4 separate regions of the Homo sapiens genome follow, and regions 2, 3 and 4 are each reported to be linked to region 1. The links are microRNA targets in miRTarBase. Many come from high-throughput screens and were not tested one by one. Region 1 holds a microRNA gene; each other region holds the end of a gene's coding sequence. Distances are from middle to middle.

Region 1 (3,798 bases):
CTTTCATTTTAAAAATAAAATAGCTGAATGAAAAATAGTTTGCTTTAGTTAAGAATACATACATAAAGTGTTTAATTGTTAAATGTGAAAAAAGTTTTGAGTAGCCTTGTGTTACATTTTTTAAGCTTGACCAGAATCTAAGAAAGATGAAAATTAATTTCAAATACTGAAGCTAAAACATGTTAATGAACTAAATAAAAGTTGACACATTTCTAATTTTATCCATCTTCCCACCTTTTACCCTTAAGTATTTAAAGTATTCATAGACAAAAGCCATCCCTTATCATTTCACTCCAGTTAACAGTGCATAAACTGAAGTTTGGATATTTTCTCAAAAGATGTGTCAAAATATACATTTCAAGTGCATTAACCACTTTCCTTATGCTTCTGAAGATAAATGAATTGCCTGAACATCTCAAGATCTTGAAAGTTTATAGTGATGGAAGCATAGGTTGCAAGTGAATGTGTTGGCCTTGTAAATTCTACTCCTAGAACTGTAGCATAAGCACCTTCTTAATTAAAGAATGACGCAGTCATAAATTTATGTATACCATGACGCGTGGAAGTATCAAAAATTTCAACTTTCCATATGTCAAAAGAGGAGAAACTATTATTTTAATATAGTTGAACACTAGTTGGAAATAGTAGTCTTTTCACTGTGTTTTGCCCAGACCCAGACTGGCAGAGTTAACCCAGACTGGCAGAGTTAACTCAAAGCACTTGATCCTTTGGAATACTCTTTTTCTCCCTTTTCTTTTCTCTGTCTTTCCACCCTATCCCCTTCCAAAAAAAAAAAAAAAAAAAAAAAATCATGACATAGAAAACCATACTTAGTTTATGGACAAGAATTCTTAGAATAATTTATTCTTTGTTAAGCATCAGACTGAAGTTATATTGTTTTGTTATATTGAGTTTTTATATCAATATAGGGTGCTGCAAAGCTGTGTACAATAAAGGTCAAGGGTAGTGATTTGCTGACAACAATTAGGAAAAGAGAACTATAGAATGCACAGGAACATTTTCAGAAATGGGTTTTATTATATTTCATAGGCACCACTCACTTTACTTTTGGTGGGTTTTAATACTTGAATCAAAATAAAATAATACATGAGTTAAGTATTAAACCAACAGATTAAAACCCCAGGCCCCCGAGCCCCTCATTTTGGTTGTAGCTCTTGGTGTAGATGCTATGGTGTGAGGGCTGCTTTCTTTCAATGGCTGGTTGTCATTCAGGCTGGGTTGTCATGTGACTGCCTGTCTGTGCCTGCTGTACAGGTGAGCGGATGTTCTGCACAGCAAGTGTAGACAGGCAGACACATGACAACTCTGTCCAGCCAGGCCCTTGGTTCCTTCAGGTTTCCTTTGCTCATAGACAGATACAATCAGCCTGTTTTCCAGATTTGGTGATTTTGGAGAGTAAGGGGAAAGGGAGAAAAATACACAATATAATTAAACATTAAAACATTATGGAACTAAAAACAAGTTAGACTTTTGACTTTATTCAGAAAGTACATTTATACATTTGTTCCAAATGTGCTAACATGGATAATTTGCGTAACAGAAAACTCACATTAAAATTTTAAGGAAAAAAAGAGATTAAACACAAGGTTTATTCTTAAGTCCAATTCATATTATTACTGGCCCACATGTAGTCAGAGTTCAGCGTAATTGAACCAGATGTTTTTCCTCTTTGCAAAAAACTGCATATTTTAATACTGAAGTTAAAGATAAAAACTATGTTTATGCATGTTTCTTTTAGTAGATAAGTACCATAACCTTGTCCATGAAAAAGAAAATTATCATTTACATGGAAACAGCAGCCCTTTTCAAAATAATTAATGAGCCTAATTTATTTGGCAACCCAAGTTGCTGACTTTGGTATTTGATGCTCTGATAATAGGATCCTACAAGGGAATATGTTTTTACCAATTATATGTGAAACAACAGGAACCTATTTAAATGTCTCATTTTCCTTTTAAATGCAAAGTTTATAACTGTGGATGTGAAATCAAATTAAAGGCAGTTGTGAGCTTAAGTTATCCACCTCTTAATTAACTATAGGGCCATGCTGTGAATCAAAAGGGTACAAACTGGAAGGCTGTTACTCACAGTGATGCTCAGAATGTGTTTTGGATATAGTTAGTGCAATATAGTTACAAAATAGTACTTAAGAAAAGGCAGAAAAGGCAAATTCATTTCATATCCAAAAAATTAAAACCAGATCCTTTGAAAATTTTTCTTATAATTTATATGAGCTAATAGTGTTAAATATGCAGATATAAAATTTAATTCTGGTGAGTTGAGAGTAATTCTATTTTAATATCAATTATCAATTCACATCTTTAGAAGTATTAAGCAAATTCCCCTCCCCTTTTAAAAACAAAAATATCCAAATAGTCAAAATTCCAGTAAGTAGGACTTCTTAAAAAACACAGCACCAAAAAAACACAGTATTGTCCAAGGATTGTATAATTAGACATTTTCTCAAAGAACTTTAAGAAAAACAAACAGTTTGTGATTTATCTTTAATTGTAAAATTCTGAGAAAATAGCAAATAGAAACTTAATGGAAAGCAAAATAGTTTTAGATACTGAGAAAATTACAATTTTCTACAAATCTGGACTTTTATGCAGTGATTAGGTAAGGTAATGTTTTAACAAAAGCTAATAAGTGCCATTTTCTGTGTATTTATGTAATTTCAAGAAAACAAATTTCCGATTCTGTTTCGGCCATCACTTTCGAGTAAAGGAACTTTTTTTTTTTCTTGACAGAATCAAAAACATGAGTAAACTTGGCTGTTATTTAAATAATTACAAGGTTAGAGTATGCCAAAAACCAGTGCCTTAAAATACTATTGTGTTATTGTTGCTGCATTCAGTGCAACAGAAAGTAATTATAGAGTGATTCACTTACAAAGAGTATATTGGTGGAAATTAAAAATTACTATAATTCTTTATAACTTTTCCTCTCTCTCCCATAAATAATTTGATCCAGTTAACTCTGCTCAATTAAAGGAATGATGCATGCAACCTGAAAAAATAAAAAGAAATATTTGTGAGTTTGTATGTTATGCTTTAATATAAAACAGTTTTATTAAGGCAAGATATAAAAATTTTTTGAGCCAGAAAAACCACAACAGTTTTTCAGGGGAAAAAAAAAATCTTGCTGAAAACAATTGTTCTATTCATAAGGCTTTTGGACAATTTATGTTTCTGATAGATTTTTAAAACACACTTACAGTAACTATGTGACATATGCACACTTCATTGTTATGTTGAACCTGCCCCTAAACTTGTTAAAAAGATGAAAGACTGAAAACCATATTGACCTTTTTTTAATCTCCCAAATTATAGGTTGAATATTAGTTTATTATTACTTAAAATACTAGCTAAAACATAAAAGAGCTATTTGTATTATTATCATACCATGTAATTTTTAGTGTGGTTATTACACCTTGTTTTCTTTTTGTCTTTTATTTCTTAAGGAAAAAAATGTAAGAAAAGAATTGTCTTCTAAGTCTTCTGTAGTGAAATTAAACCAAAGCAACTCCAGGAAACTGGCTGTCACGCTAAGTCAAAAAATTCAAAATGAAGATTTAATTATTTTTCCTAATTTACTTCGTTATCTCTAACTATTAAAACTGATAAAAATTATTTGTAAGAGACCTTTGAAAATGAGTAAATATTTATTTCTACTTAATTTACAGAACATGAAAGTAAGAAGGGATTTGAAGTAAGAAAGTTTCTATCTTAACTCAGGAATTTCCTGTCTCAGGTTAAAGCCTGACCTTCTAGTTAT
Region 2 (3,000 bases), not on the chromosome of region 1:
CCCAGCAGGGTATCCTCCGAGGTGCAGCAGATGTGGGCACTGACAGAGATGATCCGGGCCAGTCACACCTCCGCAAGGATCGGCCGCTTTGATGTAAGTAATCGCTTCCTTCTGCTTGGCTTGCTTTGCCCTGAGCAGATCAGACCTGATGGTCTTTTGTATTTCAGGTGGATGGCTGTTATGACCTGAACTTGCTCTCCTACACTTGAATGGTTGCTCCTAGCCAAGATGTTGGCCTTTCTGTGCCCACCCAGACTTGGTTTGGGCCACCAGAGGCTGAAGTGTATTTCCTGTGCATTCCAAGTGTTGCCTGCATGCCTGTTCTGTCTGGGCCACATTCACAGATTCAGGATTCTCAGGGGCTTACCGTGTTACTTCAGCATGAGCTCCTGGCATGGGGGTGCTCTGTCTTCGCCTGGCTGCAACTCAATTCTTCCTTCTACCCAAAAACACTCCAGTCAGTTGTACTTACTGAGAATCCCTGAGTGCCCTCTGCCCCTTCTGGCAACATGCACATTCCTGTCTTCTGCCTGCTCCCTCATGTCAGTGCAGTTGGGCTGGGCTGACCTACTAAAACCTGCTCCATGTATGGACCTGGAAGGCCATTGCTGCCATGGCACTTGGGACACTTGAGGAAGAAACAGAAACCTTATTTCTTCCTGTGTGTCCCCTAGTGGTTTTCTTTCCATTTGTGTTATGCCACAGAGAGAAATTTCCTGTCTGAACTCTTCTGCTGCCTGCCTAGGAAGGAAACCTGAAGATTTGGGCAGCCTGAGTCTCTTGGTTTCTGAGCTGGCTCCTGAATATATGTTCAAGTGGGTGTGCCCATAGGGCCTGGGCACGTGTCTCTAGCAAAACCAGGGCCTGAGCATAAGAACTGGGACCCTTCTAGGCAGGGTGCAGTGGCTCACGCCTGTAATCCCAGCACTTTGGGAGGCCCAGGCAGGCGGATCACCTGAGGTCAGGAGTTCAAGACCAGCCTGACCAACCTGGAGAAACCCCGTCTCTACTAAAAATACAAAAAATTAGCTGGGCGTGGTGGTAGGCACCTGTAATCCCAGCTACTTGGGAGGCTGAGGCAGGAGAATCTCTTGAACCCGGGAAGTGGAGGTTGCGGACCTGAGATCATGCCATTGCACTCCAGCCTGGGCAAGAAGAGCGAAACTCCATCTTAAACAAACAAACAAAAAAAAAAGAACTGGGACCCTTCTGCCATCTGACATAGCCCAAAGCACATCTCTATCCTTTCTCCCAGTTGCCCCTCTCCTTTTTTGTTGTTTTTTTTGAGGTTGAGTTTTGCTCTTGTTGCCCAGGCTGGAGTGCAATAGTGCAATCTTGGCTAACTGCAACCTCCGCCTCCCAGGTTCAAGCAATTCTCCTGCCTCAGTCTCCCGAGTAGCTGGGATTACAGTCATGCATCACCATGCCTGGCTAATTTTGTATTTGTAGTAGAGATGGGGTTTCTCCATGTTGGTCAGGCTGGTCTCAAACACCTGACCTCAGGTGATCTGCCTGCCTTGGCCTTCCAAAGTGCTGGGATTACAGGCATGAGCCACCGCGCCCGCCCTGCCCCTTTCCAAGAGATATGCTCAGCATAATGAGAGATCAACCGTGGTGGGGAGTGGGTCCAAGTAAGGGTTCTCATTGTTGCCTTTTAAGAGGCCTAAGTCCTGCATTAACTCAGTCCAACCATTAAGTGATGCAGGCTGCTCTTCCCTCATGTGAGAAAAACCTGTTTCCCTCTGGTTCTTCCTGGCTTTGCACCTGGTGGCTATTACAAAGCAGTACTGCAGTATGTCTTGGACCTGGAAAGTTGGACATGTGTGTGGCTCAACAGTTTTCTCGGGGGAGTTCAGTGACCTTTTGGTGGCCACCCTCTGTTCTCACCTGTGAGTTCTTGCAGGTGGCGACTTCATCTGCAAGGTCACTTACATAGCCCCACTCAGCTGCTTCGGAAAGCGTGACGAAGCAGTAGTCCTCAGTGTGTGTGTAAGTGAAGAGGACCTTGTGGTAGCAGGGACCATGCTTCATTCGTGGCTGTGTCCCCATCTGAGGGCCTGGTATGCAGTAAGATCAATAAATACTTGTGGAATGCATGACTGCTGGCTGCCTGTGTCTGCCTGGTGGGAGAGCTGTGGAACTAGGGGTCCACATGAGGACAGACTACTGTGGTGCTGCCTACCTGCCAGGCTGGCCCACCTTCCCCACCCCCACTTGACCTTACTCTCTTGAGGTCCTAAAGGTATGATTCAGACCTTTCAGCCCTTTCCAGAACTTTGACCCTCTGGAGACAGGGCGGTTCTGCAGGGGGCGGTCTAGCCCCTAGCTTTGTTCTGGGCAGCCCAATCAGCTCTGGATTGCCCGAGCTGCCCTGAAGAGTCAGCCGAAAGAGCTGGAGGCTTCTTCCCTGTGGTTGCGGGTTCCTGCATTCTCTGCTCTAAATCCCAGCCTGCCCTTGGGGCTGCCCACGCCCCCTTCAGATCCTTTGCTCCGGAGAGAGACCTGTCCGAGCAGAGGCCTGGACTACATCTCCCGGCGTGCCTGGCAGTGTGGTGGCCTCTGTGCGCCGTCTGCACTCGTTGCAGGCGACGATGCAGAGGGCTGTAAGTGTGGTGGCCCGTCTGGGCTTTCGCCTGCAGGCATTCCCCCCGGCCTTGTGTCGTCCACTTAGTTGCGCACAGGTGGGATAGAGGGTGCTGATCTTGGAGGGTGGGGGAGGGAAGCGGCTGGGGGCTAGGGCCCTGGTGGCACTAAGCCCAGCCGCCCACAGGAGGTGCTCCGCAGGACACCGCTCTATGACTTCCACCTGGCCCACGGCGGGAAAATGGTGGCGTTTGCGGGTTGGAGTCTGCCAGTGCAGTACCGGGACAGTCACACTGACTCGCACCTGCACACACGCCAGCACTGCTCGCTCTTTGACGTGTCTCATATGCTGCAGGTGAGCCAGGGGAGCACACTGGCCATCTGATCAGGCCTTCCTCCCTGTTTACAGTGGTCCAC
Region 3 (5,112 bases), not on the chromosome of region 1:
GGGGACAGAGTCTCACTCTGTCACCCGGGCTGGAGTGCAGTGGCGTGATCTCGGCTCACTGCAACCCCCGCCTCCCGGGTCCAAGCAATTCTCCTGCCTCAGCCTCCCAAGTAGCTGGGACTACAGGCGCACGCCACCACACCCAGCTAATTTTTTGTATTTTTAGTAGAGATGGGGTTTCACCGTGTTAGCCAGGATGGTCTTGATCTCCTGACCTTGTGATCCGCCTGCCTCGGCCTCCCAAAGTGCTGGGATTACAGGCGTGAGCCACTGCGCCCCGCCTAATTTTTGTATTTTTAGTAGAGATGGGGTTTCACCATGTTGGTCAGGCTGGTCTGGAACTCCTGACCTCAAGTGATCCGCCCGCCTCGGCCTCCCAAAGTGCTGGGATTACAGGTGTGAGCTACTGTGCCTGGCCAGTGCCTCCATGTTTCTTCTTTTTTTTTTTTTTTTTGAGACGGAGTCTCACTCTGTCGCCCACGCTGGAGTGCAGTGGTACAATCTTGGCTCACTGCAACCTCCACCTCCCGGGTTCAAGCCATTCTTCCTCCTCAGCCTCCTGAGTAGCTGGGACTACAGGTGCATGCCACCATACCCGGCTAATTTTTGTATTTTTAGTAGAAATGGGGTTTCACCATGTTGGCCAGGTTGGTCTCAAACTCCTGACCTCAGGTGATCCACCTGACTCGGCCTCCCAAAGTGCTGGGGTTACAGGCATAGGCATGAGCCACCACGCCTGGCCTAGTCAATCTCTTTTAATCCATGACTCTTGTTATGTATTTTGACTCTGATGTTTCCCCAGATTTGGCTCTTCGGAGTTCTTCCAAGTCTGTTTTGAATGCTCTTGGTCTGCATCTCATTGGGACCTATGAGTTTGGAGACAGAAAAAAATCTCCTGCTTTGTGGAGTGGCTGGTCTGAGGTTTTTCTTCTCCTGTTTAGGGCCAGGGTGACTTTTGTAGGTGTCACTTGGGCAATTTGGGGGAATATGCAGGTTACTCAGTGCTCTTGTTTCGCCATAGGAAAGTATCGCGAGTTCCACCGTATGTACGGGGAGAAGCGTTTTGCCGACGCAGCTTCTCTCCTTCTGTCCTTGATGACGTCTCGGATTGCCCCTCGGTCTTTCTGGATGACTCTGCTGACAGACGCCTTGCCCCTTTTGGAACAGAAACAGGTGAAGGTTGCAGCAGCAGTGGTTTTCTTTGCTTGTCAGTCCCTGCTAGAGCTTAGTTGTATAGCTGTTGCCGATGTGCGTGTTTCCTCCTTTGTCGTTCTGCCTGTGCGCGTGTATTCCCCTTAGCGCCCTCTCTGGGATTCCAGACTCACACAGGAAACAAACACTGCTTGATTTGAAATGAGGTATTCGTATACAAAGCACACTATTGCGAAGGGTATGAAAGGAAGAACGTCCGAACATGGGCCCCTGCCCCAACCAATGCAGGCCAGGGCTGGGGGCAGCCAAGCAAGGCAGGCTCTCTTCCCTAGGTGATTTTCTCAGCAGAACAGACTTATGAGTTGATGCGGTGTCTGGAGGACTTGACGTCAAGAAGACCTGTGCATGGAGAATCTGATACCGAGCAGCTCCAGGTCATTTTCACTTTTGGGTTGATGGTTCCACATGGAGGTGGGAAAAGGCTCCCTCTATCTCAGGCTTCCCCTTCCCTCCAGAAACACTGGCTCCTATGGACACATGTGCCTCTGTTCCCCTTAACCTGTGTAATTCACACACCACCTTCTTTTAGGAGAAAATCAGGGATTCTAGTGTTCTCATCTCTACATTTTGTTCTTTGCTGTTCATCATTTCCAGTATGGCCCTTTGGTATTGCTTTCTTTTACATCGATAATTTGCTGGAAGCTACTATGAATGTTAAGTGCCCTCTACCTTTGGATTAGCTAGACCCTTCGGGAGTGTGAAAGGGCTCCTTCCTGCTCTTAGCTCATGCTGGCGCTCTCTGCTTTGCAGGATGATGACATAGAGACCACCAAGGTGGAAATGCTGAGACTTTCTCTGGCACGAAATCTTGCTCGGGCAATTATAAGAGAAGGCTCACTGGAAGGTTCCTGAGAACTGCTTCAATGTGGTATCTTTGTATGGCAATGTATATAGATTTTTTTAAAAGAATAAATGTTGTTTTGCAAATGTAGGTTCTTAGAGTCCACCCAGGGAATTTTTTATCTGTCTAGTCTGAACCTGAGGTGGTAAGAGATTAAAAAATGCTTGTTTTATGTTCTTTTTTTTTTGAGACGGAGTCTTGCACTGTTGCCTGGCCTGGAGTGCAATGGCACGATCTCAGCTCACTGCAACCTCCGCCTCCAGGGTTCACGTGATTCTCCTGCCTCAGCCTCCCAAGTAGCTGGGATTATAAGTGCACACCATACCCAGCTAATTTTTTTGTATTTTTAGTAGAGATGGGGTTTCACTGTGTTGGCCAGACTGATCTCAAACTCCTGACCTTGTGATCTGCCCGCCTTGGCCTCTCACAGTGCTGGGATTACAGGCGTGAACCACCACACCCGGCCTTGTTTTATGTTCTGATACGCAACTGTCTTCCTGTGCCTCCTTAGATAAGAAATCACCCCCCAGGTCGGGTGCAGTGGCTCACGTCCTGTAATCCCAGCACTTTGGGAGGATCCCTCAACCCCAGGAGTTTGAGACCAACCTGGGCAACATAGGGAGACTCCATCTCTGTTTAAAAAAAAAAAAAAAAAAAACCCCAAAGTTGTGGTGACTGCAGTGTCTTGGAAGTCTGAACAAGAACGCTTGGTGGTATACTTGTGCTTCTGAAATCTTGCCTCACCTCTTCTGGAACACTTAACATTTTGGTTATTTAGTTCCCTTAAAATATAAGCGTACAGGAACCCGCACTTTTAACAAAAACCTTGGGCAGTTCTATCATAGGCTGTCCTCATGTATATCTAGAATTCATAGGTGGTACCTTTTCCTCCATCAGGGTGAATGGCGTCTATACTAGGAAGATTCCAAGTACAGTGAAAATGGTTTTATTTAACATGCAGCAAAACAAGGGCAGCAGAGCTGGGATATCCAGTACAGCCATTTGCCACGAAGCACTGACCTCAACAGTAACGAGTAACACTCAAATAACTGTAATGTCTAGAGCATAACACAAAGTTCCATTTCCACATAGTAATTCCACAGACATTCCCAGGGCTGCAGCAGCCAGTCTCTGGAAAGCTCTTGGATTTATTCCTTAAGTAGTGAAAAATGATTCACTTTTGACTTGTCCTCTTCTAATGAAGCAGTGAAACCTGCTTGCTAAAGACAGCGAGGGGCAGGGAAGGGATATGACCTCTTCCCATAGTAAGGAATAAGGAAGCCTGGCAAGGGGCAGGGAGGAACCAGGGAACATGGTCTGTGCCACCTTCCTTTCCCCAGAGATGTCCGATTGCTGAGCTTGTTCACCTGGGCTCCGCAAGCTTCCCCCGTGTCTATGGCAGCTGGTGATTTTTTTTTTGTGACGGAGGCTTGGAGTACATGTCCCAGGATCACATCCAGCAGCTAGAGTGGCTGGGACAAGCTGGCGGGGGCCAAGCACTGTTGAAGCAATAGGGTCTGGTGACTCAGCTCAAGTGTGGCCCGATCTCATCACCTCCAGACCCAACATCTCGCTGACAGTGCCCCTCAGTAGCTGGGGAACAGTTGAGGTTTCTGGGCAGCACATTAGGACATATGTCTAGTGTAACATTTGTGATCCTGAGGCCTCCTGTGTCCAGCCACAGGTGCCACACCACATGCCATCTGGTGAGAGGAGAGGGAGGCCAAAGCAGTAGGATGTAGAGTGGCGGTAGATTCCAAGGGGAGGATAGCAGTTTATTTCATGCCAAGCAAGAGGTAGTCAGTAGGATGGCCTGTCCCCACGGCTGGAGGCACGCTTTTCCCAGAAAGCTGAGTACCTGCTTCTGGAGAAGGGGAAATACTGGCTCTCTTCATTTTCCTTCCTATCCCTAGTTGGGCCTGTCATGAGGCCAAATTCCATGTCCTGCCAAGATGTCCATAGGACACAGCCTGCCACTGCCAGGGACAAGCACACAACTCATCACTCCGTGGCCATTCCAGGACGATGCTGTCCACCAGAGGCAGGGCTGGGGACTTTGCAGTATGCCAGTTCCTTATTCTGGGCCAGGCACCTTCCTGGGCCACCTCCCTGGGGATGGCAGCAGGAGCTGGTTGGCGGGGGAAGCATGGAATTGCAACAGGGCTGCAGCCCCTTGGGCCGTGCATCTGTCAGGTGTGAGGATGTGGCTCTTGTGGGGAATGACCCATGACAGTCTCTCTTTAGAGACTCCCACCCCCCACCCCCCACCCCAGTGGCTTCAGTGAATGCCAGTAGAAGGAAGCAAACACCTACGCCAAGCCTGGGGGTCCATGTTCCCGGGACAGCAGTGAAGTCAGGGGCCACTCCGCACCCCTGACAGCATATGGCCACTTCAAGTCACACAGGTAGATAAAAACAGGTCCTTTTAGGGGCCAAAGGAGAGGTTATCACAGCAGCAGTTTGGTTCTCAGCAGAAATGCCCAGGGCCCCTGTTCCACATCAAAGCTACAAGCACTGTTGTCAGGGCATGGAGAGTGACGGGACCAGAGCCCTCCTCGTCTCAGGGCAGCCTGCCTGGCTTCAAGGTGGAGATCACAGCGTCCTCTGGGGTCATAGGTTCCCCCACTGTTCCACAGGAGGGAACTGGTCCACCTCGCCCACCTCTGTGCTCAGCTGCTCCCCCAGGGCGAAGGTCAGCTTATACCGAAGCCGCACCTTCTCCTGTGACAGAGGGCAGCAAGTGAGATCCAGCCCAGGCGGCCCCTTGGCAGGACGCCCTCTATTCTGCTACCCTCTCTGTGCTAGAGGAATGGTCCCTTTTCCCCGCAACCCCCAACCATGCTCAGACACTTAACCTAAGGCAGCAAAGGGATGTGTCAATCCTACAGTCAAAACACTTCCAGCTGGGAGGTGGTGGGCCTGACGTCCTAATCTGGGGCAGCTGGGGCCTCAGGCTGGGACCCCTGGGTTCTTTGCTGCTCACCTTCAGTGGATTGGCCAGCAACATGACCTGGGTGATGGCTGCAGGTGGCTGGATGGGGCTAAATGGAGAGAGTTCT
Region 4 (6,170 bases), 29 Mb from region 1:
GGGGTAGCCAGAAGTGGGCAGATGTGTGCCCATTAGGTACACCTCAAGCGAGGGCTTGTGCAATCACCACCACTTCTGAGCACCCACAGTTAATTGAGAGACAGAACCAACTGCTCACCCGGTAAGCTGGACTTCCAAGAGATTTGTAATGTCGATGGTTCAAAGGTTACTCTGTTTGGTTTTCGCTTGTTAGAACTCGGATTCATCTGTACACTTGGGGCAGCAGCCTGCAGCTTGCGATGAGAACAGTGGGCAGGCCTGGTGTAAGATACTCCTTCCTAGGGATACAGCCTCTGCACTCACTCCAGGGGGAAGCTGCAGGAGGCAGACCCTGCCCATTTACCACAAAAGGAATTGGTTGAGTAGGGCCAGTGCCGGGTTCCAGGGTCAGCTTCCCATTTCTTCCCCATGGGAAGATTCGGGACCCTCTGAAGGGCCCTGGTCCCTCCTGATTTGCCTAGTAGTCTTCCATTCTGGGATCTTCCAGCATAGAGAATCTCAGACTCACAGGTGGGCTCCTAGGTCACAGTGGCCATCCCTCTGCCTCCAGGCCAAATTGCCTCTGGGAGTCTTGCTGCTAAAATCCCGAGGTCCCCTCTTCCCAGAGGCTTCTGTCCCCACCCCCTAATTCATAACCTTACTTCTGCCCTATGGTAGGGGAGCTAAGAGCCCCCACATGTCTGCCCCTCCCAGACATGGCCCAGGGAAGCCTGCTGGTGGACCAGGAAGAAACTGCTGTGCAACCTGGTTCTCTCACCGCCCTGCACTTCGGGTCCCCAAACGGGCGCGTCCCATCGCTCACTGCCTTAAAGGGCCTTGCTCTGCCCCTGTGTCCGTCTCTTTTGTATCCCCCCTCTTAGCTGGTCTCTGTCCTGTTGTTGGGAGCTGCCCCTTGGACAGGTCATCCCCTGGGAACTTGCTCACCCTGTTTTCCCCGGGCCTAACTCACCATCGTCTAAAATACAGAATCCAGCGCCCCATTCCCCACAAATAATAGGTCGAAGCGCTCAGGTCTGAGATCAGGATACCCCACAACTTCTCCAGAGACCCTGGAGCCGTCTCCCCTCCCCTACCTTCCCCAAGAATGGAGTGCCCCAGACCCCTGAGGCCCACAGATCCCCGCGGCCCCCAGGGCCGCACCCAGGCAAGGCTGGAGGCGCCCCTTGGGCAGCGAGGGCCGGGGCCCTTCCCCGCCCCTTCCTTGGCTGTGGAGGGAACTGGCGGGAAGGGGGACCCCTTTACCTGACACGCCGGCGCCTCAGGTCCGGGCACAGCCTCTCCAGGGGGCGCTGTGCTCCGGGGCCCTGGAGCGGTCCCTGCAGGGCAAGCACGGAAGTGTCCAAGGTGGCGCTCCCCGCCCCTGGCCTCAGTGGGACCCCAGGCAGCGGAGGGGCTGTGGGCACTCTTGCCGATGGGGGAGGGGCCTGCGGAGAGCCCCGCCTCCTCACCACCCCAAGGAGGGGTCCCAGTCTTCCAGGTATGGGGAAGGGGCTGTTTCTCATGAGCCTGGGCTCCGGGCAGTCAAAGCTCCAGGAATGGCTTGGAGGCGCTGAGCCACCCATCTCTACCCTCTGCCTGGCCAGTGCCCTGTCCTTGGGGAAGTGACTCCCACAGGCCAGCTCCTCAAGCTGAAGAGGCTGTAAGGAGCCTTGACAGGGGTTGTGCTGGCTTCCACCCTGCCCCGGAAGCAGAGAATCTGAGAGCCTCCCTCTACCACCCAACCCATCACACCAGCTCCCCAGGGACCTGGCCAGACCAGCTGGAGGGGCCGGGCAACTTGGCCACCTTGGCGGGCAGCCCAGGGGGCCGGGCTCAGCCTCTGCTCGGGGAAACCTGGCGCGCGCGCGCGCGCACACACACACACACACACACACACACACACACCAAAAAATAAAAATAAATAAAAATAAAAAATCCCTCATCCCCAGCTCAGCCAATCACAAAAAACAGACTTTATTGAAGTATTTAGCACTAAACCCCACACAATTCCAGCTCTGTAGCTGAGGACACAGCCACTTGGCAATGGCACCAGGTGTTATACAAGACCAATAAGTTAATGTAAAGGACGCTTAGGTGTGGAGGGCCAGTGCTCAGCCGTCTCCTGGCTCAGAACAAGGCACTCTGGGCTCCAGTTAGGACACTGAGAGGCCAGGGAAACCAACATGCCCTGGAGAAAGGGGCTTAGAGACAAACCGGAAAAGCACAGCATCCAAGCAGGGTATTCACGCATGGGGGGCAGAGTAGGCCCAAAAGTTGGGGGTTGCTGATGCGGTAAGAGCACAGTGAGAGAAATGCCAGGTGCATCCCTTCAGCCTCCTGCATCCTCCCCCAGGTTCCTTTGATGGGCCATCCTGGGTCTTCCCTTGGCACCCTTGTGCAATCGGCTACATCGTTTTCTTTCCAGTAGAGAGAACTGTGCCTCTTCTAGGTCAGACACCAGAGTTCTTGGAACCTTCTGCTATATTCACAGTCTGTTCCAGTCCAGGTAACATGGGGGCAGAGAGTTCTGCACAGGTGAAGTCAGAACTCAGCTCTCCCTACCTCTCCTAGCCTCAATTCAGTTGCTTTCTCATTGAAGCAGGTCCCCTGACCTGGAAGCAAAGAAGGCCCTAGGATGAGAACCCAGGGACAGCTGGGTGGTCTTAGCACAGGCAGCTTCCAGACTTGCTCCAGTCGCTGCAGCTGGGACAATTAATGAATGCCCCCAAAGAAAATTCAGCATCTCATCAGCCCTTGGGAGTGAGTATGTCCATGTTTGTATAAATAACCACCTTCTCAGAGCAGAAGCATAGCTGGTGGGGGGAGTAGGAACTGTGACTCCCTCTCCCAACCAGAACATGCCACAAAAGTGGTGCCTTTCCAAAACCACTTGTAAAGTATTGGTTTTTGGGACTATGATGAAAAAACGTTAGAAGGGCCAGGTGCGGTGGCTCATGCCTGTAATCCCAGCACTTTGAAAGGCCAAGGCAGGTGGATCACTTGAGGTCAGGAGTTCGAGACCAGCCTGGCCAACATGATGAAACCCCATCTCTACTAAAAATAAAAAATTAGCAGGCATGGTGGTGCTTGCCTGTAATCCCAGCTACTCGGAAGGCTGAGGCAGGAGATTCGCTTGAACCCGGGAGACGGGGGTTGCAGTGAGCCGAAATCTTGCTACAGCATTCCAGCCTGGGCGACAGAGCGAGACTCCATCTCAAAAACAAACAAAATGTTAGAAGGAGCAGTGGGGCTGCAAGCCCTTGAGATGCCCAGAGGTAGCTGTCAAAGGGTGGCTGCTGTCCACTAACCACAAGCATGGACCAGCCCCCAGCCAGACCCCCTGAGGCTACAAACTGTGATGCCACTGACTCAAAGCTCAGGGGTCTGGGAGCCCACAGGGCATAGACAGGGTATAGTGACTGGGTCCCTAAAGAGGATTTAGGGGGTCAGGAAAATAGCAGGGTCTAGCAAGACAATACACCACCGGGATATACTGACCTTTGACCTACCACTTGGTGTGTGCATCACAGAGCACATTAGAAAAGGGGGAAGAGATTCTCCCCCAGCCCAGGCTGGGGTACCCAGAGACCTGGGAAATGGGGGAGAGTCATGTGCATGAGTATGTACCATGTCCAGCCTCCAGCAATAGTGGGACAGGAGGGCCAGGGGCAGTTCCCCAGGGAATTTCTTAGAACCAGAGCACAGAGCGTTGGAGAACTCCCAAGGTGGCTCACTCTGCTTCACTCGTCCCCTGCCACTTGTCTTATATAAGGAGATAGAGGCTGTCAGTCAGACAGGCAAGGCCTTAAGTCCAGTAGGCCAAACTCTGGGGGATAAAACATAATCATATCACAGGGGTATTGAGGACAATCCACATATATAAATCCTTAGGTCAGGGCTTCTGAAAAAAGTCGTGTAAAAAAAAAATAATAAAAGGTCTCAGCTCCAGGTCATCGGCCTGCGATGGGGATGGGGGAGCTGAAAGAGGCACTCAGGGGTGGGGGGGTCTCAGCCCAGCCCCTCTATGAAACAGTTTTTTCCAGCGTGGGGCGCAGAGTTACACCTGGCTGATGATCTCTCCTTTTTCAGGTACAAAGACTTGCACAGGGGCCCCATCAGGCGATCTCCGCAGCACACAAACTGTGGGCACCTGCCAGGGTCAGGAAGAAAGGACAGGTGGGTAAATGAACCAGGCAGAAAAGCGGGGACAGCAGGCACAGTTACACCATCCTTATCCCTTAGGGACACTGACCAGCAGAAGCAGCAGCAGCAGCAGGCCCTGGCACTCAGCCCCTTCCTCCCAGGATGCTCTCTGTTCTTCAGGGACCCCCTTTACACATTTTCCTCCATGTTCTTTTGGGGTGTGACAGGCGCCCTGACCTCCTCCTCCCCCACCTTTCCTGGGCTCACTTCTCATCACCCTCCCTGTCTGGCACGTTGGGATGGGCTGGGTCTATCCAGCCAAGGACAGGCCCAAGCGCGCAGAAAGGGAAAAGCACGTCAGCTGGAGGGCGCGGCCTCGGACCGGGGCCAGGGTGCTGCCAGGCCCAGGATGCCAGCTGCAGTCCAAAGAACCGTGGGTGGGGGAGGGACACGCAGCTGGGTCTGCTGGGAATCTGGGGTCTCAAAGAAGCAGCTTGTTGGTAACTTCTGGAGCACATCACCTGCAGAGCCCTCCGTACCAGGGAGAAAGAATAAAGAAAGGATTCCTGTGTGTGGCTCCCCACTTCCAGAATGAAGAAATAGGGGCCAAGGAAACCAAGGCTGCCACCCTACCCAGTGTCAGGGTGCTCTATCCTATATACTACCCTCCAGCCTGCTCCCTGGCCTCTGTGGCCCCAGATGATAATAATATCACATATCTAGCGCTTACCATGCATTGCTCTAATCATTTCAGCCTCTTGGCAGCCCTATGAGATAGGTACTCTACTACTCTCATTTCACAGGGGAGGAAACACTAGGTCCAAAGGGGTTAAGTAACTTGCCCAATCATACAGCTCGTAAGTGGCAGAACTGGGATTTGAACCTGGTGGTCTAGCTTGAGGGTGGGTGCTCTTAACTCTGATGCCACCCTTCTTCTCGGCTTGGTGGTGAGGAGGGGTGTCAGGGAGGATGCTGATGCCCAGAAAATCACAGGTTCTGGCTTCTGCAACTCATTTCCTACTCTCCCTTTGTCCTAGACCTTCAAATGGAAATCTGAGGGGCTGATTTGGACTGGACTTTTGATTATGAAGAGGCTTATCTGCTTTGTGCATCATCATTTAGGGAGAGAAAAAGTCTCAGCTATCTTCGGGGATCATCTCCACCAGTGTATATGCTCTTGAGCTAGACATGGCAGGCAAAATTAGGAGGTGCCCCAGGGAAGCCAAGAGTGCCTTCCAAAGCCAAGAGGAAATGATTTTTTGGCCTGTTCTTCCTAGACGGGGATTACCCGGCCACTAGGTTGCTGCTTTGATGCCTCTGTACCCTTGGACATACTAGAATTGCAGCCCCTCCCCAACAAAACAGCCCTCCTGCCTGGCCCCGGGGTCCCTCCAGAGCAGCCGTACCTGTGCCCGGGGTCCCAGGGCTCGTCCGAAGCCCTCTCTCCCAAGGGGCAGGCTCCTGACCCGGAAAGCTCCTTGGCGGTCCAGTGAGTGGGGGCGGGTGCTCCGGAGGCGTGCACGCTCGTGCCACCACTTGAGCTCCTCGGACACGGCGGCCTTGCTGAGCCCCCGGCCTGCCGGGCTGTCCTTCAGGGAGGGCGTCCGCACGATGCGGCTGCGGGAGGGCACCAGACGCTGGTAGCGCAGGGGAGTGCCCTCCTCCTCGTAAGCAGGGCCCGGGGCTGCGCGGCGCAGCTCCCACTCGCCAGGCGGCAGGGGGCTCTCAGCCACCACCACGTACCGCCCCGCCGGGAAATAGCCAGGCGGCAGCAGTAGCTTGGGGTGGTGGGCGACCAGCTCTCTGCTGCCGGCTGGGACCCAGGCCCCGCGGTGACGATGGGTCTTGGGAGGGGAGAGAGGCTGCAGAAAGGAGATGTCGGGGCTGCTGCTGCCCGGCGAAGTGGGGTGGGAGATGCTGGAGACGTCAGAGCCACTGTCTTCTGAGCAGGAGTGGCAGGCGGCGTGGGGCAGCGGGGGCTTGGTCGCGGGAAAGCAGGAATCTGGCACTGTCACCGTGTAGTGAGTGGGGCGGCGGCGGGGAAAGGC

The links. The annotated mature microRNA hsa-miR-214-5p reads UGCCUGUCUACACUUGCUGUGC and lies in region 1 at 1,291-1,312, opposite strand. An mRNA with a match to its seed (bases 2 to 7 or 8) in the 3' UTR can be bound and repressed. Matches are read on the target gene's strand: a 7mer-m8 pairs with bases 2 to 8, a 7mer-A1 pairs with bases 2 to 7 and ends in A, and an 8mer does both.
Region 2: miRTarBase lists NICN1 as a target of hsa-miR-214-5p. Seed matches in the 3' UTR shown: 7mer-A1 at 1,542-1,548.
Region 3: the mRNA of GGA3 is a reported target of hsa-miR-214-5p. Seed matches in the 3' UTR shown: 7mer-m8 at 3,971-3,977 and 7mer-m8 at 3,865-3,871.
Region 4: miRTarBase lists INAVA as a target of hsa-miR-214-5p. Seed matches in the 3' UTR shown: 7mer-A1 at 3,068-3,074 and 7mer-A1 at 2,935-2,941.

Annotation. Positions count from the first base shown.
Region 1 is chr1:172,137,567-172,141,364 of GRCh38, forward strand. MIR214 (microRNA 214) reads right to left here and starts at 1,341; the gene lies at 1,232-1,341. All of the region lies in intron 14 of DNM3 (dynamin 3), which reads left to right. DNM3OS (DNM3 opposite strand/antisense RNA) reads right to left here. Exons shown (of 4, transcript NR_103486.1): 4 at 1-3,030. MIR3120 (microRNA 3120) reads left to right here and starts at 1,242; the gene lies at 1,242-1,322.
Region 2 is chr3:49,422,042-49,425,041 of GRCh38, reverse strand. It overlaps NICN1 (nicolin 1, tubulin polyglutamylase complex subunit), which reads left to right. Exons shown (of 6, transcript NM_032316.3): 5 at 1-93; 6 at 168-2,709. The coding sequence ends at 209. It overlaps AMT (aminomethyltransferase), which reads left to right and starts at 2,569. Exons shown (of 9, transcript NM_000481.4): 1 at 2,569-2,681; 2 at 2,771-2,938. The coding sequence starts at 2,592. RefSeq lists enhancers at 2,188-2,941, 2,942-3,000.
Region 3 is chr17:75,233,616-75,238,727 of GRCh38, forward strand. GGA3 (golgi associated, gamma adaptin ear containing, ARF binding protein 3) reads right to left here. Exons shown (of 17, transcript NM_138619.4): 16 at 5,037-5,112; 17 at 2,984-4,774. The coding sequence ends at 4,664. It overlaps NUP85 (nucleoporin 85), which reads left to right. Exons shown (of 19, transcript NM_024844.5): 17 at 1,022-1,173; 18 at 1,485-1,586; 19 at 1,963-2,143. The coding sequence ends at 2,064. Among named protein-coding and RNA genes, the nearest start is that of GGA3, 25 kb to the right of the region's middle. RefSeq lists a silencer at 1,036-1,199.
Region 4 is chr1:200,911,496-200,917,665 of GRCh38, reverse strand. INAVA (innate immunity activator) reads right to left here. Exons shown (of 10, transcript NM_001142569.3): 9 at 5,529-6,170; 10 at 1,924-4,129. The coding sequence ends at 4,037. Among named protein-coding and RNA genes, the nearest start is that of INAVA, 20 kb to the right of the region's middle.